4 linked regions of the Homo sapiens genome follow. The protein of the gene in region 1 interacts with the protein of each later gene in a pairwise test. Each region holds a gene or a part of one and is shown in the gene's direction. Other genes may lie near its edges.

Region 1 (7,575 bases):
CTTCTTGTGTGTCAGGCTCTGAGCCAAACACTGCCTGTTTTCTTTGTCTGATTTCTCACAACTCCCCCATTATACAGATGGGCAAATTGAGGCTCAGAAAGGGGGATTGTCTTGCCAAAGGTCTCATAGCTAGCTAATGGAAGAACCTGGTTGTGAATCTACATCTGCATGATTCCCGAGCCTGCCTCTCAGATAGTGAGAGTCTCCAAGCTCTGGTCCTGAGCTGTTTTGTGGCAGAAGGACCAGAACTATGGGGAGTGAGAACTGGAGATTGACAGACTTTTAGGGGAGCGTTTTATTTCTCATGTGTTTGAAGATGGTATCAAGGACTTTCCTATCTTTGGGAGTGTGGGAGCTCCACGTTCACAGGATGGTGTCTTGCAATGAGCTGGTGGGGGGCAGTAGCCTTTTCTACTTCCTTTCCCATTTTGGGTAAGACACATTTCTGTAAGTAATTTGCTGAGATACCCAGGTTGAATGAGAGCCACCAGTTAGGTAGGATTCTGGACAGCCAGCCAGGTAGCCGGGCTGCTTGCCATATATCATGCAAGCAGAAACAAATGAATGATGATTAAAATTGCCATTTAATGAGCACCTACTATGTTCCTGACACTGTGCTAGGCCATATACATGTATTCTTTCTTATCTTCGTAATCCAACCTGCAGGGCAGGCATTATTACTCCCATTTTAGAGATAGAGAAACTGAGGCTAAGAGAAGCAAAATAACTAGTAAGTGTTACAAAGTCAGGACTGGAGTCTAAAGCTGTCTGACTCTCAAACTTGTGTTCTTTTCACTGGCTGTTCCCAAACTGTGGGACAGTTTTAAGGAGCACATGGACATAGAATTAAACATACACTTACTTTACAGTTCTTTTAAAAATCCTTCTCATTTTTTCAAAGAGGAAGTCTCTGGAGCTAGAATAGAGTTAATGCCTCTCAAAGGCTTGCTAATCCTTCTTTTAAAACAAAAATCAAGAGCAGGCCTGGGAGGGCCTTCAACAAGCAAACAACCAGCTGGGTTTTAATAACCTTGTTTTGTTTCCCCAGAATTTATTTTTAGGGTTACCTTTTATTTATGAGAAGTGATACTGGTTCTTGTCTCTTGGCAATGATGTGAGGTTTACATTTAAAGTAAATGTACCGGCCAGGCACGGTGGCTTGTGCCTGTAATCCCAGCACTTTGGGAGGCCAAGGCAGTCAGATCACTTGAGGTCAGGAGTTTTAGATCAGCCTGGCCAACATGGTGAAACCCTGTCTCTACTAAAAATACATAAATTAGCCGGGCATAGTGGTACACACCTGTAATCCCAGCTACTCAGGAGGCTGAGGCTGGAGAATTGCTTGAACCCAGGAGATAGAGGTTGCAGTGGGCTGAGATGATGCCACTGCACTCCAGCCTGGGCGATGGAGCGAGACTCTGTCTCAAAAAATAAAATAAAAGTATTGAAATTAACAATAAGTAATTAATAGCATGGGTGGTACCTGGATGTAGTAAAATGGTGAAGATGAAACACAAGTTGATGGAGAGAGGAGCATTGAGACCTGAGTTCTCATTTGGACTCTGTCACTGTGAGACTCTGGGCAAGTGACCCTCCTCTTTGGTGCTCAGTCTCAACTATCTGTAAAATGAAAGTGTGAGTTTACCCTTCCAGCTTTACATTCTAGCATTTTATGAGGGAAGGGCTGGATGAACAGATGATGAGGAGTTGGAGGAAGAAAACATGATGGGCTTTGGAAAGGAGCAGGAAGGGAAGCAGAAGAATAGGAGGAAGAGGCCAAGTGCTAAACATAGCCCCAAACAGCACTGGGACCAGCTGAAGTCAGCCAGCTTCAGGACTCCAGGGGAGCTGCTGGAGTCCCCATATCCTATGGGATCTTTGGGAAGAGGAATGACTCAGGCATCAAGCCCCAAGGAATTCTGTTCTGTTCAGAGAATATTGTGAGTTTACAGTACCATTGCTTTGTAAAAATACCAGAATGATTCTCTGGGTGCGATTATAATCAGCTCAGTTGACAATTTACTTGAAAACAAACATGCCAAATATCATGCAGGTTCCACTTTCTGTTTTGACTTGCACTTCAGTTTGCAGCCTCTGTCCTGGATGACTTTTACCTTTCTGCTGAAGAAGTTGCAACGGAGATTTCAAGATCCCTTCAAATTGCACAATTCTGTTTTTAGGTCCATCCAGAACCACCCACTGCATGCAGAGAAAAACAGTACCTAATAAACAGTCAGTGCTGTTCTTTGTGCCAGCCAGGTGAGATGCCAACCCTCTAGCCCCATCATGGAGTCCCCCTTTGCTTTGGTGGCAGACGCAGACCCCATATGTTAACTGTAAACTCAAATCTGAAACGACCCATTTCCCAGCCCTGCTTCACTGTCAGAATGTTCTGGTTCCCTCTCTACCAGGTAAAACTCTGTCTACCCTGAACTAGGGATCCCAGCTTCTCCATCTTCCTCGCCTGATTATGAAGGATCCAAGACTTTCATCTTTGAATCCCCTACCCTAAAGCCTGGCCTGATCATTGTGTGGTTAGTGTCTGACTCATGGAGTTGGCCAGAGCCCTCCCTCATTTCCTGATGTTTTCCAGGACAGAAACTGGTGAGTGACTGCACAGAGTTCACTGAAACGGAATGCCTTCCTTGCGGTGAAAGCGAATTCCTAGACACCTGGAACAGAGAGACACACTGCCACCAGCACAAATACTGCGACCCCAGTGCGTGCGCTGTTGGGAAAGGGACGCTTGGGAACCGGGCTGATATTCCCGACAATGCAGCCATTCTAATTTTATGTAGCCAGGGTCTGCTCTGATTGGTTGGAGTCCGGGCTGTACTGATCATTAAATGATTTGATTGCCATCTCTACTTGGAAGAGGGTCTGAGGAAGAAAGAGCAGGCAATGTGGGGAGTGAGGCTCAGAGCATGGCCCAGCAGGGGGTTCCCATCCTTCCTGCCCTTCTCTTCTCAGACCTAGGGCTTCGGGTCCAGCAGAAGGGCACCTCAGAAACAGACACCATCTGCACCTGTGAAGAAGGCTGGCACTGTACGAGTGAGGCCTGTGAGAGCTGTGTCCTGCACCGCTCATGCTCGCCCGGCTTTGGGGTCAAGCAGATTGGTAAGTGGCTCATCTGGGAATCAGTTTTGGAGGGGGACAGAGGAGCTTAGGGCCCAAGGTGAGGGGCTGGGCAGTGGGCACTTAGCCCCAGAGGCAGAGGAAGCAGAGGCTCCAACCTATGTCGGTATCCCCACTGGAGTGAGCTGCAGACGGGACCTTGTTCATTCTGCCTTCTGCCATGGGGATCTGCCTTTGAAGGGCAATGGGAGAAGTCCTCCTGGGGACTGCAGCTGTCGGGGGCAGTACCACATCGGGGGAAGAGTGCTCAAGGCAGGAGCTCTTCCCGTCCTGCCTGGCCACTGGCTGCCTTGTGAGCCGGACAGGTGGTCCACTGTGATGGTTAATGTCCCCCTCCCCACCCACTCCCAGCTACAGGGGTTTCTGATACCATCTGCGAGCCCTGCCCAGTCGGCTTCTTCTCCAATGTGTCATCTGCTTTCGAAAAATGTCACCCTTGGACAAGGTATAAGCACTCATCCCTTGTGTTTCCTGCTCTAAGAGTGGCATGGAGCTGCCTCCATTCTCTCCAGCCACCTGTCCTGTCCCTGCTCCCAGAGGTCCACACACACTCATGTACTTGTGAAGCATCTGCAGAGTGGCCTCATGGCCAACCAGACAGGCACATTTCCACATTTTTTTTGCCTGCTGTCTCTTTGAGGTAATAGACACTGTTGATCTCTCGCTTCATGAGAGCCTCCTATCTTGGGGGTATTGGGACACTTATTTTAGCTTTCCTTCTGCCCCTCCTGCTTCTCCTCAGTTTTCCTCGTCTTGCTTTCACCTTACCTGGCTTTCTAGGGCTTTCTGGGCTCTGGGTGCTCACCCTGAGGGCCTCCCTCTCTTACCTCCAACTCCAAACCCACACCAGGTCCTGCCACTGGCTGTCTACGTGTTTTGGGAACTTACTGTCTCCACTGTTGTCACTTTAGTTTGGGCCTCATCACTGTGGTCTGGGTGATGCCTTTTCTGCCTCCTGGCCTCCCTGCCTCTGTCTCTCCCCTCCTGCTGGTTCTGTCTCCATCCTCTTGCCAACATGAGCGTTCGACAGTTTCTTTCAAATCATGACACTCTCCTATTTGAGATGCTTCCTGTCTCTCTGTTGGAACTAAGACTCCTTAGCATGGCACCCAACCTTCCTGTTGCATTTCCTGCTCTCTTTCCTGCATCGCATAGCTTCATGCTACTTGCAATCCTCTGAACACACTGTTCATTCTCTTCCATCAAACTCATCTGCCTGGAATACCTTAAACATGGGCCCCAGGCCAGGCGCGGTGGCTCTTGCCTGTAATCTCAGCACTTTGGATGCCAAGGCGGGTGGATCACTTGAGGTCAGGAGTTCAAGACCAGCCAGCACAACATGGTAAAAACCCATCTCTACTAAAAATACCAAAAAATTAGCTGGGTGTGGTGGTGGGCGCCTGTAATCCCAGCTCCTCGGGAGGCTGAGGCAGGAGAATCACTTGAACCCGGAAGGTGGAGTTTGCAGTGAGCCAAGATAGCGCCACTGCACTCCAGCCTGGGCAACAGAGCGACATTCTGTCTCAAAAAACAAACACCTGCCCCATTAACTTTTTGCATTTGATTTTTAAAAATGGGCAAGATAGGCACATGGGACAGAAGGCACAAAAGAGCCAAAGTGATGTCTTTCTCCCATCCCTGCCCCTTAGGCTCCCAGTTCTTTCTGGAGGGAGCCATTGTTCCTTGCATATCCTTCCAGAGATTCTACATATAAACAAACCAACACACACACACACACACACAAACACACACAAAATTTCCCTCCTTTTACTTTTGCACAAATAGGAGTATACATTTTATTTGTTAACTGTCTGCCTTTCCCTAATAGATTGAAAATTCCTTAAATGTAGAAACTTGGCCTTTTTTTTTTCTTCCATTGATACATCCCCTATACCTGGAACAGTACCTGACGCATGGTAGGTGCTTAAATTTTTACTGATAAATGTTGACTGATAACTGGAGGCACCACTGGTATAGTTTTTTTTTTTTTTTTTTTTTTTTTTTTTTTTTGAGACAGAGTCTCACTCTGTCGCCCAGGCTGGAGTGCAGTGGCGCAATCTCGGCTCACTGCAAGCTCTGCCTCCCAGGTTCACGCCATTCTCCTGCCTCAGCCTCCTGAGTAGCTGGGACTATAGGCGCCCGCCACCACACCCGGCTAATTTTTTTGTATTTTTAGTAGAGACGGCGTTTCACCGTGTTAGCCAGGATGGTCTTGATCTCCTGACCTCGTGATCCGTCTGCCTTGGCCTCCCAAAGTGCTGGGATTACAGGCGTGAGCCACCGTGCCCGGCCACCAGTGGTATAGTATTAATGGAATCAGTGCATTGGCTTACGTATCTGATTACAGCTCAGTAAGTGTGTGACCCTCACTGAGCCTCAGTCTCCTCATCTGAAAAATGGGAATGACCTTCATTTCACAAGGCTTGAGCTAAAAACATGTAAAGTGTATTGTAAATTCCTGAATGCTCTACTCATGTAAGACTAAAGTAGGCCGGGCGTGGTGGCTCACACCTGTAATTGCAGCACTTTGGGAGGCCGAGGAGGGCAGATCATGAGGTCAAGAGATCGAGACCATCCTGGCTAATATGGTAAAACCCTGTCTCTACTAAAAATACAAAAATTAGCTGGGCGTGGTGGCGCACATCTGTAGTCCCAGCTACTCAGGAGGCGGAGGCAGGAGAATTGCTTGAACCTGGGAGGTGGAGGTTGCAGTGAGCTGAGATCGCGCCACTGCATTCCAGCCAGTCTGGCGAAAGAGCAAGACTCTGTCTCAAAAAAAAAAAAAAAAAAAAAAAAAGACTAAAGTACATGGTTTCTTCAAAGCTTCTCTCTCTTTCTCCCACCTTAGATGATTTTTCCTTTGCAATGTCCTGTGTCCATTCCGCCCCACTCCTCCTGGGGCCACCTGGACCAGGTCTTCATCATCTCATATCTATATGTTTGCTGTGTCTCCTGGCTGGCCACTCTTCTGTAATTTCTCCTCCTCTGAGCTCTCTGGGCAGCTGAATCTTCTCACTAGTGAAGTCGCCTGGTTGGATGCTGATGAGACTGACCAGCTGAATCCAGTTGAAAACTTCACACTTGGCAGTGATCTGGTTCTAAAGACACAATTTTCCATAGTTTCCTAACACCATCCTGCATGCCACCTGCCTTATTTCCCCACATCACATCGTCCCACTTAGCGGGACTGCACTGCTGATCCAAATTTTACATCCTTTAGGGCCCACTCAGGTCATATGTCCTCAGGGAAGTCTTTCTGGAAGAACCTTAAACCAGAGGTTCTCAACAGGGGGCAGTTTTGCTCCCTGTGGAACGTTTGCCAATGTCTGGACACATTTCATTCGTCACAAACGGAGAGGGGGATGCTACAGGGATCTGGCGGATAGAGGCCAGGGATGCTGCTGAACATCTGCAATGCATAGGACAGCCCACCCCCACCCCCACACCCCCAGTAAATAATGATCCAGCCCAAGTGTCACTGGTGCTGACGTTGAGTAACCCTATCTTAAGCTGAACTCATCATCTCTCCATTCCAGCCTTGGTGGATTCTGTCTCCTCTGAACCATTCCCATCTCACTTTAGCCTACCTAGATCACAAAGCTTGGCACTCATTATAGACTCCCCTATTTATTACTCCTTCAAGATGTGCAAGAATCTTTTCTCTGCACTTTTAAGTTCTGTAAGAAGAGTCTGTGTCGTTCCTATAATAACCAGCATAGGACGTTGCACGTGTTGTGTGCTCAGTGAACCTGGATTTGTTGATTGTTGACTGACTCACTCTAGAGTTGGAAATCTTATGCTTGGGGAAACTTAATATCTCTTTCTTTCTCTGTGTGTGTGCATTTGTGCACGTGTCTGTGCATAGCTGTGAGACCAAAGACCTGGTTGTGCAACAGGCAGGCACAAACAAGACTGATGTTGTCTGTGGTGAGTCCTGGACAATGGGCCCTGGAGAAAGCCTAGGAAGGTGGGAACTGAAGGGGGAGATGAGGCACACAGGAACACTGGATGGGAAAAAGGGGAGGGGAGGCAGTTTGGGGGTGTGGTATCACAGCTCTGCCACTTATCTTGGGAGTCTGGGCAAATCACTTCCCCTCTCTTAGCCTCAGTTTCTTCATCTGTAAAATGGGATGATAACAGCACTTCCTTAGTAGGTTTTGATTTTAGAGTGAGAAGGTTGGCCTACAGTAAAGATCAGATAATGTAAATCAGTGAAAAAGGTCAGGGGTAAGAAAATTACATTCTCTTTACCTAACGCTAAATGACCAGTTAATGGGTGCAGCACACCAACATGGTACATGTATACATATGTAACAAACCTGCACATTATGCACATGTACCCTAAAGCTTAAAGTATAATAATAATAAAATTTAAAAAAACGAAAAATACATTCTCTTTGCTTTTTCTCAAAATGTACTTTCCTCTTTGTAGGGCTGGGA
Region 2 (7,575 bases), on another chromosome or scaffold:
CTCTGTAGGCCCTAGAAGCCTTCTCGCACTTAGCACTAGTCGACCGTCACTTCTGGCTCAGCATACACTGTGGTCTGGCTGCTGCTGCCAGATTCCAGTGCACCGTCGGTGACTCCTGCAATGATGTTATCAACATGGAGCTCCACTACAAATACCTGGCTAACAGTTGTCCTCACATCTCCTCTGTTGTGTGTGCTTTGTGGCAGGTACTTCAAGCGTAGCGAGGGCCTGGAGCGCCACCTTCGACGAGCTGATAGGCAGACCCATCGGGGAGTTCTCACGGACACACATGACTCTGAACGCCCCCGGCGTGCTGGCTGAAAACCCCGACATATTCGCAGTGATCATAATTCTCATCTTGACAGGTAAAGCCCACACTTAAAAAGAGATCGGGTCAGAGTGATGGGCAAAGGTTTGGTGAGAGGCTCCTGTTAAGTTCCTTTCTTTACTTATCTCTTTAACCATAACCCCCATTTCTTTTTGTTTTGTTTTTGTACTGCATGCAGGCATCTTTATTTGTTCCTGTCTTCATTGCTTCTTATAGATTCAGATAGGGCCGGCCTGCTTCATAGCTGTTGAATTGTGTGCCATTTCATTAAAAGAGAATCTTAGGTGTTTAGCCTAGCTGTTTGTGGAATAAGATTTTGTCTGCACTGCAGGCTTTTTGTGTGAGTGTCCTGGGAATAAAAGTTCTTTTGACTCAGTGGATGACCATTTGGAAAGCAAAACTGTCATTCATCAGCCAGGAAAATGTGGAGGAATGAGCTCCGTCTGGAACACTAATGTGTGCCTGGGGCGTCTGAAGATGACTTGGATGGTTTTTACACCTAACAACCATCAAAACACCCTTTCAGTAAATAAGTTTCATGACAGAGTTGTGGTTACAGAATTTGAAAAATCCCAGAGACTGCCTGAACACAGCTGATGGCAACTTCTTGCTAGTGACATTTGTGCGTGTCTTGGCCAGTGCAGCGCGAGTTTTGCTCTGTGGGGCTCCATAAACATGAAGCTGAAATGCAGATAAATTCTCATTTGGGGTTAGAAAATCTTGGATGAGTTTTAAAAATGACATGCCTTATTTTACACACCACATAATTGAAATAACTTCACTCAGGCTGGTCTCAGCAGTATTTCTGGTCCAGCTGGCAGAAACATGCATCAGAAAGTAAGTCTGCACTAGTGAGATTTCATTTTAATAAACCTGAGAGGGAGGGACACTAAAGAAACAATATATTGTTGTTTGTTGAGGTGTTCTCCCTGTGATTAATTACACAATTCTCTTCTAACATCTGTACTTTATAATTCAATCTCAAAAGTACAGCAGTTTTTATTTTATTTTATTTTATTTTATATTTGAGACAGAGTCTTGTTCTGTCACCCAGGCTGGAGTGCAGTTGCGCGATCTTGGCTCACTGCAACCTCTGCCTCCTGGGTTCAAGCGATTCTCACACCTCAGCCTCCCCAGTAGCTGCGATTACAGACACGCACCACCACACCCAGTTAATCTTTTATATTTTTAGTAGAGGTAAGGTTTTGCCATATTGGCCAGGCTGGTCTGGAACTCCTGACCTCAAAAGATCTGCCTGCTTCCCAAAGTATTGGGATTACAGGCGTGAGCGACCGCACCTAGCCAATTTTTATTTTAAAACGATGAGAGGCGTCCATGGCAGAGCAGTGGTCTCAAATCCTGGCTGTGTTCGAGTGGTACCAACCCCTTCTGTGCCACTTTTCTTGCCCAGCAGAGAGTTCAGCTATGGAAGTACCCGAATGACCTCTTCACCCTAAGGTGGTGCTGGGGCATGTGCCTCAAAGGCAGTGCTGTCAGAGGTTCCTGGGCATCTTTATTACTTATAGTTTTCTTTAAAAAAAAAACGTGAGTTTGCAAGCTAGAGCTAGCCTAGCTCAGATGTTATTTTATATGCACTGAGTCCAACGAAGAACCATGTGTGTTAGTGGTTCCAGAACCATAGCTAGTTGTTATTGTTAATATCACTAACATCCCAAAGTCAACCAGAATAATTTCCTCTTCTGAAAAATGTCCATTCTCCCAGGAAACTATGCAAAGTCTTTCTTCCTGGAATTGTTCCTAGAGGTTGTTTCCCAGCAACGCATCCTTTTAGTGAGAGGGAGCGGCTTGGTGTGCGGGTCCAGGCTTTCCCCTCCCTATGAGAGGGGCTCATGCTCCAGATCTCTGCAGTTCTCGGGTGCCCCTTGGGTGGGCTTCTCAGTTCCCAAGGGTATCTGGAGGTCACCTAGGAGGGCCTGGGAAGCACCCACAACCTTGGTGATTTAAACCCCTGATCCCCGCCCCCAGAAAGATAATTAATCCACCCCATTCCCAGAGGCTCACAGAGGTCTGCAGAGGCTCGATGCACTTGGATTCTTTTTCAGTCGCCTTCTTATCCCCATCCAGGAAGGACCTTCCCAGTTTGTGGTTAACACTCAGACAAAGTTTTGTGTCTATGCACTTTTTCAGGACTTTTAACTCTTGGTGTGAAAGAGTCGGCCATGGTCAACAAAATATTCACTTGTATTAACGTCCTGGTCCTGGGCTTCATAATGGTGTCAGGATTTGTGAAAGGATCGGTTAAAAACTGGCAGCTCACGGAGGAGGATTTTGGGAACACATCAGGCCGTCTCTGTTTGAACAAGTGAGTTGCTGCTTCTGACCATTTTTCTTAGTTGACATTTAATGACATAGATTGTATGGGGGATATAACTGGCTAGGATGGCATGTGCTTTTAAGAAAACATTATTTGAGGATATTTTGTTAATTGTTTTGTGTTTTTGCAGTGAAGTAGCTGAGGGTATTTTGTATGTATCAAGTTTGTGTGAAGGTTTATTCCCCTGAAATGGAAAGACTATTGTATGACAAGAAAGACTGAGGAAAAGAAAATCATCACCCTAATTCCAAATTGTGTATCATTCAGGATTCTTGTCAGACTCATTAAATGATCCCTCTTTCCCCAGATTCTGTTTGATGGCCAACTTTGGAATTTTGTGTTCAGAAAAGATTTTTCTCTGCAGTGCCGTGGTGACCTCACTTCACCTTTAAATACCTTCCTATTAGATTAATAATGTAGAGGGAAGAGAAATAGGTGAAACTATTTTTGAAGGTTTTCAGAATGACTGAAGTGTCAGAATGTGAGCACAATAGTCTTTCGCCGACATTTGACTTGTGCTGCTCAAGCCCTGGCGACAGTGGCCCCATCACCCTCATGTCTCTGACACAGACATCCGGAACTGGAGGTGACAGCTCCACCCTGTGCCATCTCAGGTCTCTCGCCCAGCCCTCATTGAAAGCTCAGATAACCTAGGAAAAAAAAGCCAAACAGTCATATCTTTTTTATCTTTGTTGTCAGATCTCCATGTAATTCTTTAGGTCTCAGGATGGACAATGGGGACTTGGATTTTGTGTGTGATTCTTCATTAAGACTGAAGGTTGAAACTGCTATGATAAAGAGACCCCCTCCAACTGCCACAATGGAGTGTGGCTTTAAAGAAGAGATGTTTCCAGTCCTGAAGTGAGCAGTCCGCGTTGGCTGGCCAGCTTTGCCACAGGCCTCTGTGGACCTAGACATCTTCTGTCTTGCTCCATCTTCCCCCAGGACATTGTCCTCATCTGCCTGGTCAGAGCTGGCTGTAGGCACGAGCATGACCCAGCTCTTCCAGAAGGGAAAAGAGAGCGTAGAGGAGAGTGCTCAGGTCTGTTCAGGACAGACCAGAAGACACACAGACATTCCATTGGCAAGAGTCCACTGGGGGCCACATAGAGCTGCAAGGGAGGCTGAGAAGCACTATCTCACATTGGGAATCTTAGCAGTCACGTATGCCCAGTTGGTCACTGGTTCAGGGCCAGGTGCCAGCCATGTCGCCCAGTATTGTTACCAGTGGGCAGGCATTGATGTGTGACTACTTGAATGGAAACAGGAAACTATGGCATTCGGTGCACGAAACTTCACTAACACTAATATTTTGTGGTTAGCAGTTCTAATAAAACTGCTTTCCTAAACTCTGTTATGGAGAACTGAGGCCTTTGAATATGTCATCCCGAGCATTTCAGAGTCATATTTATGCCAAATTTATGGGTGTCCATTAATCTAGGGTGGAGTGAAGCCAATTCCAAATATGTGTTGAAGTAACGTGTAGCCTTTGAAAACTCAGAGCATATTCGACCGGTTGCTAGTTATAGGTCAGGAATGAAATATATAGGGCACCTCTTGTTAACTGGTTGCCAATCGAGATTTAATTTTATTATTTTTATGAAGAGATTGTGCCAGCCAATGGTATTTACTTTCACTGGTCATCCTCATGCTGGTACCCTAGTAATGATGAGCTAGCTGTACCGGCCCCCAGACAAAGCAGCATTTGTTGCCCCAATCCCTGATCATAGGTGGGGCCCCCTTAGCTACATCTGACGGCCTCACTGCCAGGGCCCAGCCCCCTGACCACAGGGACGGCAGGGGATCGGCCATGTTAGGAGGTGGAGTTCTGCAGGACTGGAGCCTCCTTGGCATGCTCTATTATGTTGTTAAAATATCTAAGCAACTTTCTTTCTTTTTTTTTTCCAGCCGTAGCTTTGTGTTTCTGACAACAGCCATGTAGTCTTGCATGACATTGCTGGTTCCTCTGAAATAGTAGGGCACTGCCCAACCAATCCATATAACATGCAGGAGCTTCCGCTTGCATGGGAGGCCGTGAGACCACATGGGTTTGTGATTTTAGGATGCTGTCTCCTAGCCGCCTGGGAAGGCCCCCAGGAACTAGGTCGGTCTGTCTGTTGGTCTGTGAAGAGGAGTGTTAGTTACCCTGCAGTCTGGATGGCTCTTCGTGCCTTTGACTCAGGCTGCCGCTGGCATTCCCATCCAGTGTTCTGTGGACATAGCAATAGTGAAGCATCAACCCTGCATGGAAGCCTGTTGAGAAGGTTTTGTTGGATGGTGTCTGCCAGTTAGGATGGAAGCCCCAAAATAACATTGGCTTCAACAAGATAAGGCTTTGGTTTTCTTTGGTTAACCTCTGGGGTTGGTCAGTCCAGCTTGTCGCTTCACCCAGCCAGGAATCCAGGCCAGGCGCCCCAGGGCTGAAGGCGGCTTCTCCAGCTCCAGTCAGCGGGATGGAGAAGGGAACAGCAGAGGGTCCCCTCCCTCCCCACTTCGTCTCCTGGACATTTCTCAGCAGATGCAGACACCACTTCTGCTCAAACATCCTCCATCAGAACTTAGCCAGATGGCTACTCCTTGCAGCTAGTGACTCTGGGAAACACACAGTCCTGATTCTTAAGGCTCATATGTCCAGCTGAAATAATTAAAGTTTCCATTACCACGTAGAAGAACAGGGGAGTGTGGCTTTTGAGCACAACTAACAGTTGATGTCAGGGTGGCTGGTGTGAGGGTGGCGGAGCCCTGCTGCAGGAAGTTCACCACTGATGCAGTGGGAGACCCTCGGGCCTGACCCCTTTCTATGCCAGGCATTGTCTTTGCTGCTTCTGAGCGACCAGCTGAGTGGAACACAGAAGGGCTGGTCAAAGGCTGCAGGGCAGGGAGCGCTGAGCTGAGACCAGGACTCAAGCTCACTTTGTCTCGGGGCGACATTTGCTGGGTGAGGGCTCTTGGCAGCCCCTCTCTTTCACATGTGAGTTGCCAGATGATGAGTGAACACAACTGCCACACGCATGTAAAAGGTTAATTATTGATTACATAGAAAGAGACCCTTAGTAAATATCTCTACGTTTTGGTTTGCGCCTCTGTAGAATGGATTCTGTGGTTATTTTGTGTTGATACTCTGCCACTGGCATCAGTAACACCCAATCTTTTCTTAAAGGTGGAATTTAACTTTTTGAGTTGGTAAAATACTACGTGGTTCATAACGCTTTAAAAAAGATTTACAATGCGTTCCTTTCTTCATCCACCTCATCTCCCACCCCCACAGGTAAACTTTCTAATTGTGTGTGTGTGTGTAAGCTTCCAGTTTCTCCCTGTGTAAGCACAAGCAAATGTAAATATGTATATTTTATTTCTGTTTTCTTACACAAAACGCGGCACTCCGTATATATTGTTCTGCACCTTGCATTCTTGCTTACTAGCATGCCCTGCAGATTTTTTTTTTTTTTTTTTAATCAGGCCCTTGTTCATTGTTATGGTTGCCCAGGGTCCCGGCACCCGGGTCCTCCTGAAGTCGGCTGTGGGTCCTCCTGAGGTCAGGTGTAGCGGCGCAGTACGAGGAGCAGGTGTGGCAGGGTCACAGTCAGCAGGGAGGTTTACGGATGCTCACGGTTGCACACAGCTCTGGAGTTGGCGCAGCACAGCACGTGCCTTCACCCCCATTCTGTAACCTGGAGGATTATCCAGTCTCTTCTGCAACTGTCCTGAGGAGCCGGGGAGGATGCCTTTTGTTTTGCCTCCTCGCTTTGCGCTCACCCATCGCCCTTGCTTCCTTCTCTCCATGCTTTTATTGTTGTGTGTGCTTTACCTGTCTGCGTGAGGAAGACACATTCCAGCCCTTCTTAGTCCCCTTCTGTGAGTTCATCTCTTTCTGGGATTTAATCATGTATGCAGTTCCCTGCACTTTCCACTTGCCCTGAAATGGAGGTTTCAGGACCTTTCTAGGTGCCTCTGCCTCATGGTTGCCTAAAGCTCATCTATCCATGATAGCATTCATTTATTTATTTATTTTTTAATTTTTAAAAATTATTTTAGAGACAGGATTTTGCTGTGTTGCACAGGCTGGGGTGCAGTTGCGCAGGCTGGGGTGCAGTGGCACAATCATGGCTCAAAGCAGCCTCAAACTCCTGGGCTCGAGCAATCCTCTTGCCTCAGTTTCCCAAGTAGCTGGGACTATAGTCATATGCCACCACACCCAGCTAATCAGAAAAAAATTTTTTTTTTGTACTAATGGGGTCTCACTATGTTGCCCAAGCTGGTCCCTAACTTATGGCCTCAGGTGATTCTCCCGCCTCGGCCTCCCATAGTGGGCATGCATTTATTTTAACGCAAGGCCATGTTGGTAGCTCTTGATGTCATAGGAGCTGAGTGGGGATCTGGGGGCTTTTCACTGCCCGTCTGTCACCCTGGCCGCCACAGGGCACCAAAGTGGGGCCCACAGAAGCCATTTTGACTCTTGAGTTCCCCTCCTCCCTTGGCCTCATCCTCCCCCTCTTGAGCCATTTGGTTGTCACCTGCTTTGTCTTCAGCATAGGCCACTGAGTAACAGAAGCCGTTTGCCAGGGTGGGAGTGGGTGGCCGGCGGGGCCTCTGGCCTGAGAGGCGAGGGGATTTGGATGAGTTGGGCACAGCTCCACTCCAGCCCTTTGCTGTCCTGCGGCCCTGCTGACTTGTCTGTCCTGGGATGCTTGGTTTTGAACTTGGGTTGCTAGTTTTAGTCATACTCTAACACAACAAACTAAAATTTTGTTTGGCCACAGTTTTTCCTGCGTCCATCACTTGTACATTTCTGGGGGTTTCCTCTCGTTACTGTTTATGGGACCACAGTAAACCCCACATCTACATGAGCTTTCTCATGCATGTACTTCCAGCGTCTTCATGGCAGTTTCTGTAACTGAGAGCTGTGATGATC
Region 3 (6,468 bases), on another chromosome or scaffold:
GGGTTGGTGAAGTGCCTCTTCCCACTCCCAGAAGGAGGGCCCCAGGGGAAAATCCCTCAAAGCCTCACTTGCTGGTCCCCTTGCACAGTCCCCTGCCCTGGGGAAACCACACACTGCCCTCAAGCTCCCAGCCTACAATCGCTCCCCTAAAAAGGGCCCCCTCAGGATCCTGGCATCCCCCCAGGGGTCCCGCGGTGTGGAAACATCTCCCGTGTTGGCCCATCTCCCAACATGGCTGGTTTCCAAGCAGCAGCACAGCCAGGGGGCATCTTGACTGATCTTCCTTCCTGGGGAGGCTGGTGAGCCACCCTCCATCTTCTTCACACAATTCCATCTCATCTCCCTCTCCCAAGACTGCCTCATACCTCCCCCATCCCAGCCAAGCCTTCTCTTTTAACAAACATCAACAAAGTGTCTGACAATAATTTCCATAAAATTGTTGTGAACAAAGGTTGCGAAATGTAGATGGGATGTGGTTAGTGGGTCAGCACTTGATGGAAAAACCCAGCTAGGGGAATGAACACCCCTTCCCGCTGGGCAGGTCTCTAGTTGAGAACCACTAGGCTCTACTGCCTTCTGACTTTCCTCTTTTACCTTTTATCAAAGGCAGCACACAGCCAGAGAGGTGTGCAGTTACAAGCCCACAGCTTGATGGATTTCATACAGCGAACTCCCTGTGTGGATGGTGTCTGGACTAAGAATTAGGGCCAGTTACCAGCGCACAGTCTGATGAATTCTCATAGAGCAAACTCCCCAGTGTAGTTGGCATCTGGACTAAGAATTAGGGCCTGATAAACAACTCCCAGAAATCCCCTCAAGTCCTGTCCCCATCACTGTGCACCCCCACCACCACCCAATTCTGATTTCTAGCACCATGTTCAGTTTTGCCTGCCTTTGAACTTCATATAAGTGGAATTATACAGTGGGTACTCATGTGTGGCTTCTTTCTCTCACCCTTGTGTTTGTGAGACTCACCCAAGTGGCTGGGTGTAGATGTGGGTTGTTTGTTCTCATTACTGTATAGTATTCCCTTGTAGGAATAGACCAACATCTATTTATCCATCCCATGACTGACCATGTTCCCATTTTTTTTTAGTTGAGTTGGATAGACACGAATATGTTCACGCAGACAGGAGCGTTAGAATTGAGAACCAGAGTGTTCTCAGCTGGCAGATGTGCCCAGATAAAACCACCAAGGGGAAATCTGCACGGCGTTCGATGTAAAGTCACACCTTTCAACTCACGGTATCAACTGCATCCGTCTGTGAGAGAGAAAGAAGTTCGTTACTCAGGATTCAATCCCAGACCCGCCCAACCACAGCATGCCCAGTCCAGGGGATACTTGGGTACAGGGAGGCACCTCACACCCTCTCTCACACAGCCTGGTTTTGGAAGCAGCCAGCCTGCCTCACATCCACTGTGTGGCTACTAATTAGGGTCTGTTCCAAGCTGAGCTCCTCCCTCTCTCCTTTGTGGGTGGCGGAGCTGCTTTGCCAAAGGGACCCCAGGGATGGGTGGAAGTCGCCTGGGGCGAGATGGAAATTTCTGGAGAAATCTGGAGGTTTCTAGATTATACAATGGTGGGCAGTGATGGCTACAGTTTAGGGAGAGGGCTTTCTGAAGCCAAAATTTGCCCATTCGTGCCCAGCTCTACGTGTTCCCAGTGGGCCATTTCTTGACCCCACTTGGAAAATGAGTCTCCACTGCTCTTCCTGCTGGGGACTTCCAAGGTGCTTCTGCCAAAGGCTTTCATTGGTCTGGAATGCCCACCTTTTATGGAGGGCTGCCCACTGGTGTCTGACTGCTCCTGCCCAGATACGTTCTCTTAAATGTGTTATTCAATAATTCAGCTTACTCACCGCCTCCAGGCAATGAGGGAAAGGGCTTGGCCAGGTGTAGGGGCAGGAGAGCAGGCACCCTGAGGGCTGGGATTGATGAGCATTTTCAGGAGTCACAGAGGCGTAGCCGCCCTAAATGGACGTCGTGCCTGAGCTGGAAACTCTTGACCCCTAACCAAGGTCACAAAACCAGGTGCAGAGATTGGACTTGGCAGCAGGCAGGCCTTCAGGGAGTAGGGTGATGGGAGCAGACAGTGCCCAGGAGGACACAGCAAGTCCCCAGAAAGCAGGGCCATCGCTCCAAGGGCCACAGTGGCTGACTGGATGGTCCCAACAGTAAGGCCCCTCCTTTAGACAAAAGCTCAAAATCCCTTCTCCCCTTCTCTGTCCCTCACTTCCTATGAAGTCTGGCTCTCTCAGCCACACCTGTGATATTAAGAATCCTAAAACAAAATAATGATAGGGTGAGAATGTCCAGGCAGCATGGAGACTTTCACCAGGGCCAGCAAACCCAGGTATTTACAATCTCTCAACCGAGCTACCAGGACCACAGCTGGAGGGCGCTGGTCTCACTGGTGTTGGGGGAGGAAGTTGTCCCTGGAGAGTTACCTGCCTGAGATGCTTTCATTGGAGGGGTCTTTGAGGACTCCATCTCAAGTCAGCCGAAACCTCAAGCTGAGACGAATGTGATGCTGGGTGATAGTGGAGAGTCTTACCTTCCACACCAGATCCAGGAGACTGTTAGGTCACATGGAGCTCTGTACTGAGAGGATTTGGTGCACACCTGGGCTCAGCAGGGAGGGCGTCCATGTGAGGGTGAGAAGCAATGACAGCCCAAGCTCTCTGGGTCTGGCCCCCCCTACGCCACGTGGGGCTGGATGCAGTGCAGACGCTGTGCCTCGCCCTCCCTACACAAACCCATTAACGGCCATTTCTCTTGGTTCCAGGTGTTCTCCTACATAGCCACTCTGCTCTACGTGGTCCATGCGGTGTTCTCTTTAATCAGATGGAAGTCTTCATAAAGCCGCAGTAGAACTTGAGCTGAAAACCCAGATGGTGTTAACTGGCCGCCCCACTTTCCGGCATAACTTTTTAGAAAACAGAAATGCCCTTGATGGTGGAAAAAAGAAAACAACCACCCCCCCACTGCCCAAAAAAAAAAGCCCTGCCCTGTTGCTCGTGGGTGCTGTGTTTACTCTCCCGTGTGCCTTCGCGTCCGGGTTGGGAGCTTGCTGTGTCTAACCTCCAACTGCTGTGCTGTCTGCTAGGGTCACCTCCTGTTTGTGAAAGGGGACCTTCTTGTTCGGGGGTGGGAAGTGGCGACCGTGACCTGAGAAGGAAAGAAAGATCCTCTGCTGACCCCTGGAGCAGCTCTCGAGAACTACCTGTTGGTATTGTCCACAAGCTCTCCCGAGCGCCCCATCTTGTGCCATGTTTTAAGTCTTCATGGATGTTCTGCATGTCATGGGGACTAAAACTCACCCAACAGATCTTTCCAGAGGTCCATGGTGGAAGACGATAACCCTGTGAAATACTTTATAAAATGTCTTAATGTTCAATACATTTGTTGGGTGTTTTTTGGGTTTGGGTTGAATTCCTCAGCATCAAGAATACCATCAATTCAGCTTTCTTTCTGAGGAATCCTTTGACTTAACCTGAATCTCAAGAGACAGCATCAGGTGGCAGTTCAGACGACGGACACTGTGTGTGCCAGGCCACTGCACTCTCAGAGCCCGGTGCTGGGGAGCCCACCCTCCCAGCTACCTGCCCAGATGGCTTCCCCTCTCTCTGGAAACTGGCCAAGTGCCAGCCAGGGGCAGCTTCTCCTTCCTACAAGACACAACAGTCTGTGCCCCACTAGAACCTCCTTCCACCAAAAGAAAACACGGTGCACAAGTTTTCATTCACTCATTGTGAAGCTCATCAGCGTGTTCCTGGGCAGTCTGCTTTGTTCCCATTGTGTGGATAATACATTATTTTAGAATTTCCTCGGGCCACTCCATAGGAGAGAAAGGAGAGGAAATTACAGAGTGAAAGGAAGTACGGTGACAAGGGGTGAATGCCATGTTTCAAGTCTGAGATGTCTGGGTTGAAAGGAGATGGGATGATTAGGAAGGAGGCACTGAGTTAGGAATCTGGAAAGCCCAGCTCTGTTATGAAACGCTCCCTTATCCCATGGCTCCGAGAAGTTAGTGCCATTCCAGAGATGGGACGCTGGAAGAGGTGCTTGAAGACCCGTGAGCTTCCTGCCATGGAGGTGTGTGGTAGAGCATCTGCAACCTCTTGCTGGCAGCCATGGGGACAAAGATTCAAGCTTCAGGCTGTAACGGTGTCATGTACCTGTGGTCCCAGCTACTCAGGAGGTTGAGGTGGGAGCATCACTTGAGCCCAGGAGTTTGAGGTTGCAGTGAGCTGTGATGGTGTTACTGCACTCCAGCCTGGGCAGCAGAGCAAGACCCTGTCTCTAAAATAAAATGATAAAATAAAATAAAAATAAAATTCAAGCCTCAAGTGGTGAGTTTAGTTGACATTTTACTGCTCTTCAACTTGGAGAGTCTACAACTAAATTGGTCTATTCAGGAGGTCCTTTGTTAATCCAGGATAACTGGTACCAGAAACCAGCCACTCTTAGTAAGTACACGTCAAACAGCCAACATTTCATAGTATATCATGAGCAAAAGGTTTGACTGGGGCTTTACCTAATGAGAAGTAATAGGAAGTTTGTTACATGTTTAACAAAATTTCCATCCAGTGTTGATTGAGAGAAGTCTCATTTTTCAACAAAACTGTCCACAGGAAGCCATCAACATGTTAATGAAGCTCACTTTTTACCCTCATCAAAAAGAAGAAGAAGAAGGAGGGGGAGAAGGAGGAGGAGAAATGGAAGGCTTAGTTTCCCAAGGGCTTCTCAATGTTTTGACATTTTAATCATTCTCTTTTTAAAAAAATCTTTCATATACTCTTTCTCTATTTTTAATTTAGCCAAAGGCTTTGCAGATGGTTCTCTGACGCCACTTTCTTATTCCTTCTAGCCCTGGGCATATTTTAAATTTGCAGTTTCATTTCACATTTGACTTGCATCCTATTCACATTGGATGTAAATTGGATGGGCAAGGTTTCATTTCCAGCCTCAAAAAATGCCCCCTTCCGGTCTTGCTCTTCCTCCTCACCCCCCACCCTCACACCCCAGCCCCTGTCGGGTTTCTTTGCTCCTGCATCTCTGTTCCCAGCTCTGTCCCTATCTGGCTGTTTTGTGCTTGCAGGTACACATGAGTGCTGGCGGCAGCCCTGCCAGCCATGGGTGCTGCTCCCCTGGGAGCCCACGATGCCTGGGTAGGAAGGGTTGGGAATGGGGACATTAGAGAAGCCTGCTGGGTGAAGCAGGCTGCAGAGAGGGGCACCGGCTGAGCACCTTCTGTGTGCTGGGACCATTGAGGGGATGGTTTCTAGCCCCCAAAGCTGCTTCTTGCTGGCACCCCTCACCTCTCTGCCTCTGTCTTACACAGGAGGGGACCTCCTCTAAGGCAGAGCCTGGTGCCACCCAAGGCACTCACAGACTGCCTGCTTGTGGCCCTCACTTAGATCAAACGCAACTGCCCAGAAGACCCAAATTCACTCTTGTGTAACCATCTTCCCTGCCATTTTGGGGGCTCTTGCCTTGTGCCAGGCACTGTGTAAGCACTTTCCATATATAGCTTTCTGTCACTCTCCCAGTGGCCACGTCATCCTACAGGTGAGAAAACTGAGGCTGGTGCAGGTGGTGAGAAGTGCAGTTGGACTGAGGGCCGCCTCCCTCTGGCCCTGAAGCCCTGGGCTTGATATGACCTCAAGGCACCCAGACCTGTCCTCACGCGGGCCGTCCTCCCGTCTCCCAGGAAGTGGCAGTGAGATTTAGTGGTTGACAGGATGCTGGTAGGCAGGAGCCTTCAGAGAGTGATGAAGCCAGGCACTTAGGATAGCCCCAGTCCACCAGCAGGGCCTATAGCAGCCCACGGCCACGGCCAGGCCCTGCACTCAGCGTCTCCTGGAGAAGAGCTGGCTGCTCAGAGCTGCAGCCACAGCCACGCCAGCTCAGGTAGCTGCTGGGTCCACTTTGCAGCCCCCATAGAGCCAAAGCCAAAGTCCAGCTGATACTTTGCAAAGGTGAGGAACTGGGTATTTTTAAGCTCACAGAATAAGGAGCTAAATCTATCCACAAGCCTGAGAAAGGATTAGGAAGAGGCCATTGTGTATGCTGTGACTCAGAGCCAAAGCTTGCAGAATAGGCCAGACCATAGTCAGTCACCCCACTTTTGTCCCCACCAAGTTGTGGGCCCAGCAGAGAAGAGAACAGAGGGGTTTGGACCAACTGGGCCTCGTGGGTCACTGCTAAGGGCTTCCCCCTCCCCTGATTGTCCCTGTGGCTTGTGTGCTGTCCATGGACCCAGGAACGTGCAGTGCCCGGTCAGGCGCCAGGAGGGACACGGGGCCAGTGCTCAATAAACACGGCCGCATAAGTGAGCAGGCCCAGCGCCCCAGGGCCGCTCCAGCTGACCTGTGCTCATGCATGTCTGTCCTCTGGCCTCTCAGGAAATGACAGTGAGATGAGACCTTGTGGTGGACAGATGCCAGGTGAAAGGGAGTTTCTGAT
Region 4 (7,575 bases), on another chromosome or scaffold:
TGACATAGTTGTGACAGACCATGTGCTCTACAAAGCCTAGAATATTTACTACCTGGACCTTTACAGAAGAGCTTGCTGACTGCTCCCTTAGAATGGGGCTCTGCAAAGTGAGCACACCCTGGGATCACAGCCCAGCCTGCCCTTAGAACAAATGAGAGGATATTTTCAAGCATTTGCATTGCAGTTTTCACGGTTTTTTTGTTTTGTTTTGTTTTTGAGACAGAGTCTAGCTCTGTCGCCCAGGCTAGAGTGCAGTGGTGCGATCTCGGCTCACTTCAGCCTTCTCCTGGGCTCAAGCCATCCTCCCACCTCAGCCTCCTGAGTAGCTGAGACTACAGGTGGATGCCATCACGCCCAGCTAATTTTTTTTTTTTTTTAAGAGATGAGGGCTCACTGTTGCTCAGGCTGGTCTGGAACTCCTGGGTATTTATTTATAGACAGAGTCTATCTCTGTTGCACAGGCTGCAGTGCAGTGGCGTGATCTTGGCTCACTGCAACCTCTGCCTCCTGGGTTCAAGCAATTCTCGTGCCTCAGCTTCCCGAGTACCTTGGACTACAAGCGCATGCCACCGTGCCTGGCTAATTTTTGTATTTTTAGTAGAGACGGGATTTTGCCATGTTGGCCAGGCTGGTCTCGAACCCCTGACTTCAGGTAACCCACCTGCCTGGGCCTCCCAAAGTGCTGGGATTACAGGCATGAATCACTGTGCTGGTCCTTCACTGCATTCTTCCTTTTCTCCTGCTTTGCTCTATTTCAGGAAGTAGGAGGGCTTATCTGTGTATTGTGAGCAGGGCAATATAACTTTGCAGCTCTCTGTCAGGAAAGTGTGCCCAGGGTCTATTCTAAGTCTGTCACAGAGCAGTAAACCAGGACCTTTTCTAGGGTGTGGCTACAGATCCTTTCGGACTGCATTTACTTTTTCCTCTTACAAAGAAAAAAAAAACAGTTGTGGAAGTAGATATTGTCAGATGAGTGAGCCTGCTGATCAAGATCTCTTACATTTCACTGAGGGATGGAGAGTGTTTTAGGTGAATATCTGGTGATCTGAAACGTCCTCTGCCCTTGGAGGAATTGAGGAGGCAGTTCTGAGGCTGGGTAGCAAATCTCTGAGTTAAGTAGTTGAGTCACAAATCTTCTAGGAGGCTGGTGGCATGATTTTCTCCTGCCAGCTTCATGGAAGCTTTTTCCCTGCAGCCCTTGGACCTTCTTTTCTTTTTTTTTTTTTTTTTTGAGACAGAGTCTCACTCTGTCCCCCAGGCTGGAGAGCAGTGGCGCGATCTCGGCTCACTGCAACGTCCACCTCCAGGGTTCAAGCAATTCTCCTGCCTCAGCCTCCCTGGTAGCTGGAATTACAGGCGTGCGCCACCACACCCAGCACATTTTTGCATTTTCAGTAGAGACGTGGTTTCACCATGTTGGCCAGGCTGGTCTCAAACTCCTGACCTCAGGTGATCCATCCGCGTCGGCCTCCCAAAGTGCTGGGATTACAGGCTTGAGCCACCGAGCCTGGCTGGACCTTCCTTTCTCAGAGATTACTGCCAACTTGGGTCACCTTGTGCATCTTTACCTAAGTAGGTGGACCCCTAGCATGGGGAGAGCTGGCATGGCATGGCTGAGGGCCACTGAGAGGCCTGGGCAGGCACAAGGAACATGAGCTGCATGTTAGTAGTTAGGATGAAGTGCATGACAGCAATGACTAAGAATTCTATGTATATATATATATTTTTAGATGGAGTCTCGCTCAGTCGCCAGGCTGGAGTGCAGTGGCGTGATCGCAGCTCACTGCAACCTCCACCTCCCGGGTTCAAGCGATTTTCCTGCCTCAGCCTACCGAGTAGCTAGCTGGGACTAAAGGCGCGCGCCACCATGCCCAGCTAATTTTTTATTTTTAGTAGAGATGGGGGCGGGGGTTCACCATATTGGCCAGGATGGTCTCGATCTCTTGACCTTATGATCTGCCCGCCTCGGCCTCCCAAAGTGCTAGGATTACAGGTGTGAGCCACCTCACCCAGCCTTTTTTTTTTTTTTTTTTTGAGATGAAGTTTCGCTCTCATTGCTCAGGGTGGAGTGCAATGGCACAATCTTGGCTCATTGCAACCTCTGCCTCCCTGGTTCAAGCAATTCTCCTGCCTCAGCCTCCTGAGTAGCTGGGATTGATTACAGGCGCCCACCACCACTCCTGGCTAATTTTGTATTTTTAGTAGAGACCGGGGTTTCACCATGTTGATCAGTCTGGTCTCGAACTCCTGACCTCAGGTGATCCACCTGCCTCAGCCTCCCAAAGTGCAGGATTACAGGCATAAGCCATCGCGCCCAGCGAAGAATTCTAATACTTGACTTCTACAGTGTGCTACATTCATTTTCTCACTTGATCTGACAACCTGTGGTCAAGGAAGCAGCGTGGGCCTTGAAGCTAAACACACAGGATTTGGAACTCCCCACCCACTCTCACTGGGTCCTCATGCTAATTACTTATCTCTCTCAGCCTTAGTTTCCTCACGGAATAATATGCCTCCCAGGGTTAAGAGGAGTAAATGGGATCTTGTGTGTAAGGCTCTGGTGCTCGTAGCTGGTGTTCGTTATTCTTACTGTTCAAGTATTCTTACTGCCACGCCTTTCTTGCAGGTGAGTCCTGCAAATGTTAAGTGATTTGCTCAAGGTGCCCATTTCGCAGGAATTGGAGCCCAGGCCAGTTCTCTGAGCCTATCATTAGGGCTAAAGGTGAGCAGTCAAATGTTTTACCTCCGTGGGGGCTATTGGCTATTAGCTGCTTCCGAGTGAGGGACCTCAATGCAGGAAGCCACACTGTTGCCTTCTTGGTGTGAGTCCGTGGGACAGGGTGACTGCCTTGATGCCTGGGCCCGTGCTGCCTACATATTAGCTGAAAGCAGGGCCAGTCCTGTGGCTTTGCCCACTCACCTAGCGTTTAAGAGCAACTGCTCAGGGCTTTAAGCATTTGCCATGCCTGAAACCAGAGTTGGTTTCTGGGTTTATCAAGGACTTGTGGAAATCTCAAAATAAATCTCTTGCTTTCTGGACCATGAGTTGTTGCTTCCTCTTTTTTTCTCTGGACTTTCCCCAGAGGAAGAGAAAGCAGAAGTCTCAGGGCTGGAGACAGCTGAGGGGCATCAGCTGGTTCAAGGTGTGGAGTGTGGGCAGTGGAGTGAAGGCCTGGTTACCTCTCCAGTGAAGATTAGCCCCATAGAGCTTACTCTATGGGGAAGAACTTTTCTGACTCCTTCCTGTCTAGGGTAATAGTGGGGTGTTTGCTCTTTTCAGACTGTAATTTTTGCCTTCTTATCTTAGAACCCAAGGCCTGGGTGTTTGCGTAATTTAGCCTGGATTTTGATTCCTGTCCCTTTTTTCCTGGGGGGTATGGGGTGGTAATTCTTTACCTTCTGGTCCTGTGAGGGGAGAGGAATCCCAGGACTCTGGGTCTTGGGCCTTGGCATCTGGCCTTCGCCAGGGCCAGCCATAGCCTTGAGTTTGCTGCTCTGTCTGGGCACTGCCAGGTGCTGGGGTGGGGCCTCAGTCATTGTGACTGAAGATCAGGCCCACCCAGGCATTGAGGCCTCGGGCGGGGGGTGGTGCCCAGGCTGATGCAGGGGAACTGAAGCAAAAAGATTCCATCCCACAGGCCAAGAGCTAAATCAGTGTTACCTCCTTTAGCCAGAGAACTGGGTGCATCTGAGCCAGTGGAGATTTGTGACTTCTCCTTCTTCTAGGAGTGCGTGATCAGAATGGTGTCTGGACGGTTCTACTTGTCCTGCCTGCTGCTGGGGTCCCTGGGCTCTATGTGCATCCTCTTCACTATCTACTGGATGCAGTACTGGCGTGGTGGCTTTGCCTGGAATGGCAGCATCTACATGTTCAACTGGCACCCAGTGCTTATGGTTGCTGGCATGGTGGTATTCTATGGAGGTGGTGAGTAAGAGGTCAGGAAGGGAGGCGGGATAGGGCTCAGGCTGGACAAAGCTGCACTTTCCCTCTCCAAGGCTGGCCTTTGTAAATGTTGGGCTTGGGGCTATGGGGGTAGGGTGGGTTGGGCTGTCTCTGGGCCTAGCTGTCATTTGGGGGAGGAAGGGGTTAAGATGGGGGGCATCTCAGAAGGGTGGCTTCACAAATACTCTAGGGCAGGAGTTGGCAAACTTTCTATAGAGGGTCAGATAAATATTTCAGTTTTGCAAGACAGAATCTGTGTTGCAGTTACTCAGCTCTGCCACTGTATTGTGAGAGCAGCCATAGACAACACATACACACAAGTGTGGATCACGTGTTCCAATAAAGCTTTATTTGCAAACATAGGTAGCGAGCTGGATTTGGCCTTTGAGCTGTAGTGTTTTTTTTTTTTTTTTTTTTCTCTAGACGGAGTCTTGCTGTGTCGCCCAGGCTGGAGTGCAGTGGCGTGATATCGGCTCACTGCAAGCTCCACCTCCCAGGTTTGCGCCATTCTCCTGCCTCAGCCTCCCGAGTAGCTGGGACTACAGGCGCCTGCCACCGTGACCGGCTAATTTTTTTTTGTATTTTTAGTAGAGACAGCGTTTCACCGTGTTAGCCAGGATGGTCTTGATCTCCTGACCTTGTGATCTGCCCACCTCAGCCTCCTGAAGTGCTGGGATTACAGGCTTGAGCCATCATGCCCGACCTGAGCTGTAGTTTTTAACCAGCTCTAGAGAACAGGAGATTGAAGCCTCTCATGGTTTAGTCAGGCCACCGAATGAGGGACTTGCTTGCTCTTCCGGGATCCATCTTTTTTTTTTTTTTCTTTTTTTGAGATGGAGTTTTGCTCTTGTTGCCCAGGCTGGAGTGCAATGGCGTGATCTTGGCTCACTGCAACCTCCGCCTCCTGGGTTCAGGCCATTCTCCTGCCTCAGCCTCCCAAGTACCTGAGATTATAGGTGCCCGCCATCATGCCCAGCTAATTTTTATATTTTTTAGTAGAGATGGGGTTTCACCATGTTGGTCAGGCTGGCCTCGAACTCCTGACCTCAGGTGATCCACCCGCCTCTGCCTCCCAAAGTGCTGGGATTACAGGTGTGAGCCACTGCGCCCAACCTGGGATCCATCTTTGTAATCTTTGTCCCATGCTTTCAAATCTGTGCCTTGGGGCCCTGGTGAGCCTCATTTTCCCCATTTGTAAAATGGCAATACGATGCCATTGATGATAGCAGCTTACCATGTGCAGTTCACATATATCATCCCATTTTGTTCTTACAAGTTTGTGAGGTGGGCTCTGTTATATCCCTTTTACAGATGAGGAAATTGAGAGTTAGACAGGAGAGGCCAGGCCAGGCGTGGTGGCTCACGCCTGTAATCCCAGCACTTTGGGAGACTGAGGTGGGCGGATCATGAGGTCAGGGGATCGAGACCATCCTCGCTAACACAGTGAAACCCCGTCTCTACTAAAAATACAAAAAATTAGCCGGGTATGGTGGCAGGCACCTGTAGTCCCAGCTACTTGGGAGGCTGAGGCAGGAGAATGGCGTGAACCCGGGAGGCGGAGCTTGCAGTGAGCTGAGATTGCGCCGCTGCACTCCAGCCTGGATGATAGAACGAGACTCTGTCTCAAAAAAAAAAAAAAAAAAAAAGAAAGGAGAGGCCAAACAGCTAAGAGGCAGAGCCTGGATTTGGACCTATGTTGCCTGACCTTAGTACCTGTGTTGACAGCCAGCCTCACTTGTGACAATTCAGTTTGATGAAACAATGACTGTCATGATGCTTTTTAGCCTAGAAACTGCAAACAAGCTGAATTTATTATTGTGAAAATAGAATGAGAGGTCCAAGAAACCTGCTTCCCCCCTCCACTTTTTTTTTAGGAGACAGGTTTCCCTCTTTTTCAGGCTAGAGTGCAGTGGGATGATCATAGCTTGCTGCAGCCTTGAACTCTTAGGCTCAAGTGATCCTCCCACCTCAGTCCCCCAAGTAGCTGAGAGAACAGGCATGTGCCACCATGCCCGGATAATATTTTTTATTTTTATTTTTTGTGGACACAGGATCTTGCTATGTTGCCCAGGCTGATCTTGAACTTCTGGCCTCCCAAAGTGCTGACATGAGTCACCGTGCCCAGCCCTCCTCCCTTTTTAATTGGAATCTGTTTATTTATTTATTTCTCTCTGTGGCCCAGGCTAGATTGCAGTGGCATGATCATAGCTCACTGTAACCTCAAACTCCTGGCCTCAAGCAGTCCTCCCACCTTGGCCTCCCAAAAAGTGCTGGAATTACAGGCATGAGCCACCTTGCCTGACCACTCCTCCCTTTTTAACTGGCCCTTCTCTCCTCCCTTCATGGCTGTTATCCCACAAATCATGGGAGGGTAGAAGATGCCGAGGAGTTGATACCAGTGCCCTAGCATTTCCTGTTCCCTTGCTGGGAAGCTGTGTAGGATCCTATCAGGGTTATTCCCTGATGTCTGGGTGAGCTCGAGGGGAGAGGCTGAGCCCTGGCACTACTCTCTCCTGCAGCGTCACTGGTGTACCGCCTGCCCCAGTCGTGGGTGGGGCCCAAACTGCCCTGGAAACTCCTCCATGCAGCGCTGCACCTGATGGCCTTCGTCCTCACTGTTGTGGGGCTGGTTGCTGTCTTTACGTTTCACAACCATGGAAGGACTGCCAACCTCTACTCCCTTCACAGCTGGCTGGGCATCACCACTGTCTTCCTCTTCGCCTGCCAGGTGGGTTCTCTCTGTTCTCCTCCTCGAGGTTCCCAGAGCCATGAGCTCTGGTTGGGGGTTCACTTGCATGAGCACCAAATATTCCTCTGCTCACTGCTTGGAGAGGGACTTGCAGATTGTTATCTTGTAGAACTGACAGTTTATTCAAGGGCTGTGGGAGGTCAGTGGCCTGAACTTACCCTGTTCCTTTTATCCCTCCCATTGCCCGTCTCTCGTCCCAGAGCCCTCTCTGCTAACTTTGTCATGGCACGCACTATGCTGACTCTAATCAGCCATCTGGCTTCCACTTTCCCCACTCCCACCTCTGTGAACCAAAAGAATTCTTGAAGTGGTTTCCATATTCTGATCTCAGGCCTGTGCGAGTGAAGAGTTTTATGAGCAAGGACTGGAAGGAACCAGAGACAAACAAGGTGGTTGGGTTTGCTGGGAGTGGGATGGTAGCTAAGCATGTCATTTACTGTTCTTGTTGCTTGGGTAATAGGCCACAATGAGGAAGCTAGCACGGTAGTGGGCAATGCCAGGTGGGAAGGTTTGAGTTGTGAAAGAAGAGCCAGGGAGCAGAGATGGGGAGGAGGCACTGATGGGGTGGGATGTGCTTTGGTCACACATAGCACAGTCGGGTGTGTCCTCCCTTTTGTCCACAGTGGTTCCTGGGCTTTGCTGTCTTCCTCCTGCCCTGGGCGTCCATGTGGCTGCGCAGCCTCCTAAAACCTATCCACGTCTTTTTTGGAGCCGCCATCCTCTCTCTGTCCATCGCATCCGTCATTTCGGGCATTAATGAGAAGCTTTTCTTCAGTTTGTGAGTGCAGTGGGGTCCCCAACTCTAAGGTGAAGAGGAGGGAATAGGGTCTTCAAAAGATACACCCTGTGATCACAGGACTCACCCAAGGGAGGAGAGATTTTG

What was found.
Region 2: the proteins of CD40 (region 1) and SLC7A1 interact in binary tests that used the Homo sapiens proteins (3 or more experiments, as listed by UniProt).
Region 3: the proteins of CD40 (region 1) and MAL interact in binary tests that used the Homo sapiens proteins (3 or more experiments, as listed by UniProt).
Region 4: the proteins of CD40 (region 1) and CYB561A3 interact in binary tests that used the Homo sapiens proteins (3 or more experiments, as listed by UniProt).

Annotation. Positions count from the first base shown.
Region 1 is NC_000020.11:46,119,640-46,127,214, forward strand, and holds part of CD40 (tumor necrosis factor receptor superfamily member 5 isoform 1 precursor), read left to right. Parts: intron 1-2,180; coding exon 2,181-2,259; intron 2,260-2,593; coding exon 2,594-2,719; intron 2,720-2,970; coding exon 2,971-3,117; intron 3,118-3,486; coding exon 3,487-3,580; intron 3,581-7,000; coding exon 7,001-7,062; coding exon of another isoform or gene 7,063-7,102; exon of another isoform or gene 7,103-7,522; intron 7,523-7,575.
Region 2 is NC_000013.11:29,525,614-29,533,188, reverse strand, and holds part of SLC7A1 (high affinity cationic amino acid transporter 1), read left to right. Parts: intron 1-206; coding exon 207-365; intron 366-2,476; coding exon 2,477-2,651; intron 2,652-7,575. UniProt on the Homo sapiens protein: High-affinity, low capacity permease involved in the transport of the cationic amino acids (arginine, lysine and ornithine) in non-hepatic tissues.
Region 3 is NC_000002.12:95,050,596-95,057,063, forward strand, and holds the end of MAL (myelin and lymphocyte protein), read left to right. Parts: intron 1-2,785; coding exon 2,786-2,860; 3' UTR 2,861-3,397; downstream 3,398-6,468. UniProt on the Homo sapiens protein: May be involved in vesicular trafficking from the Golgi apparatus to the cell membrane. Plays a role in the maintenance of the myelin sheath, and in axon-glia and glia-glia interactions.
Region 4 is NC_000011.10:61,352,880-61,360,454, reverse strand, and holds part of CYB561A3 (lysosomal membrane ascorbate-dependent ferrireductase CYB561A3), read left to right. Parts: exon of another isoform or gene 1-1,029; intron 1,030-2,626; 5' UTR 2,627-2,722; intron 2,723-3,083; exon of another isoform or gene 3,084-3,216; coding exon of another isoform or gene 3,217-3,252; exon of another isoform or gene 3,253-3,726; coding exon of another isoform or gene 3,727-3,741; coding exon 3,742-3,925; intron 3,926-6,462; coding exon 6,463-6,671; intron 6,672-6,892; exon of another isoform or gene 6,893-7,023; coding exon of another isoform or gene 7,024-7,081; exon of another isoform or gene 7,082-7,272; coding exon of another isoform or gene 7,273-7,315; coding exon 7,316-7,470; coding exon of another isoform or gene 7,471-7,575. UniProt on the Homo sapiens protein: Transmembrane reductase that uses ascorbate as an electron donor in the cytoplasm and transfers electrons across membranes to reduce iron cations Fe(3+) into Fe(2+) in the lumen of the late endosome and lysosome.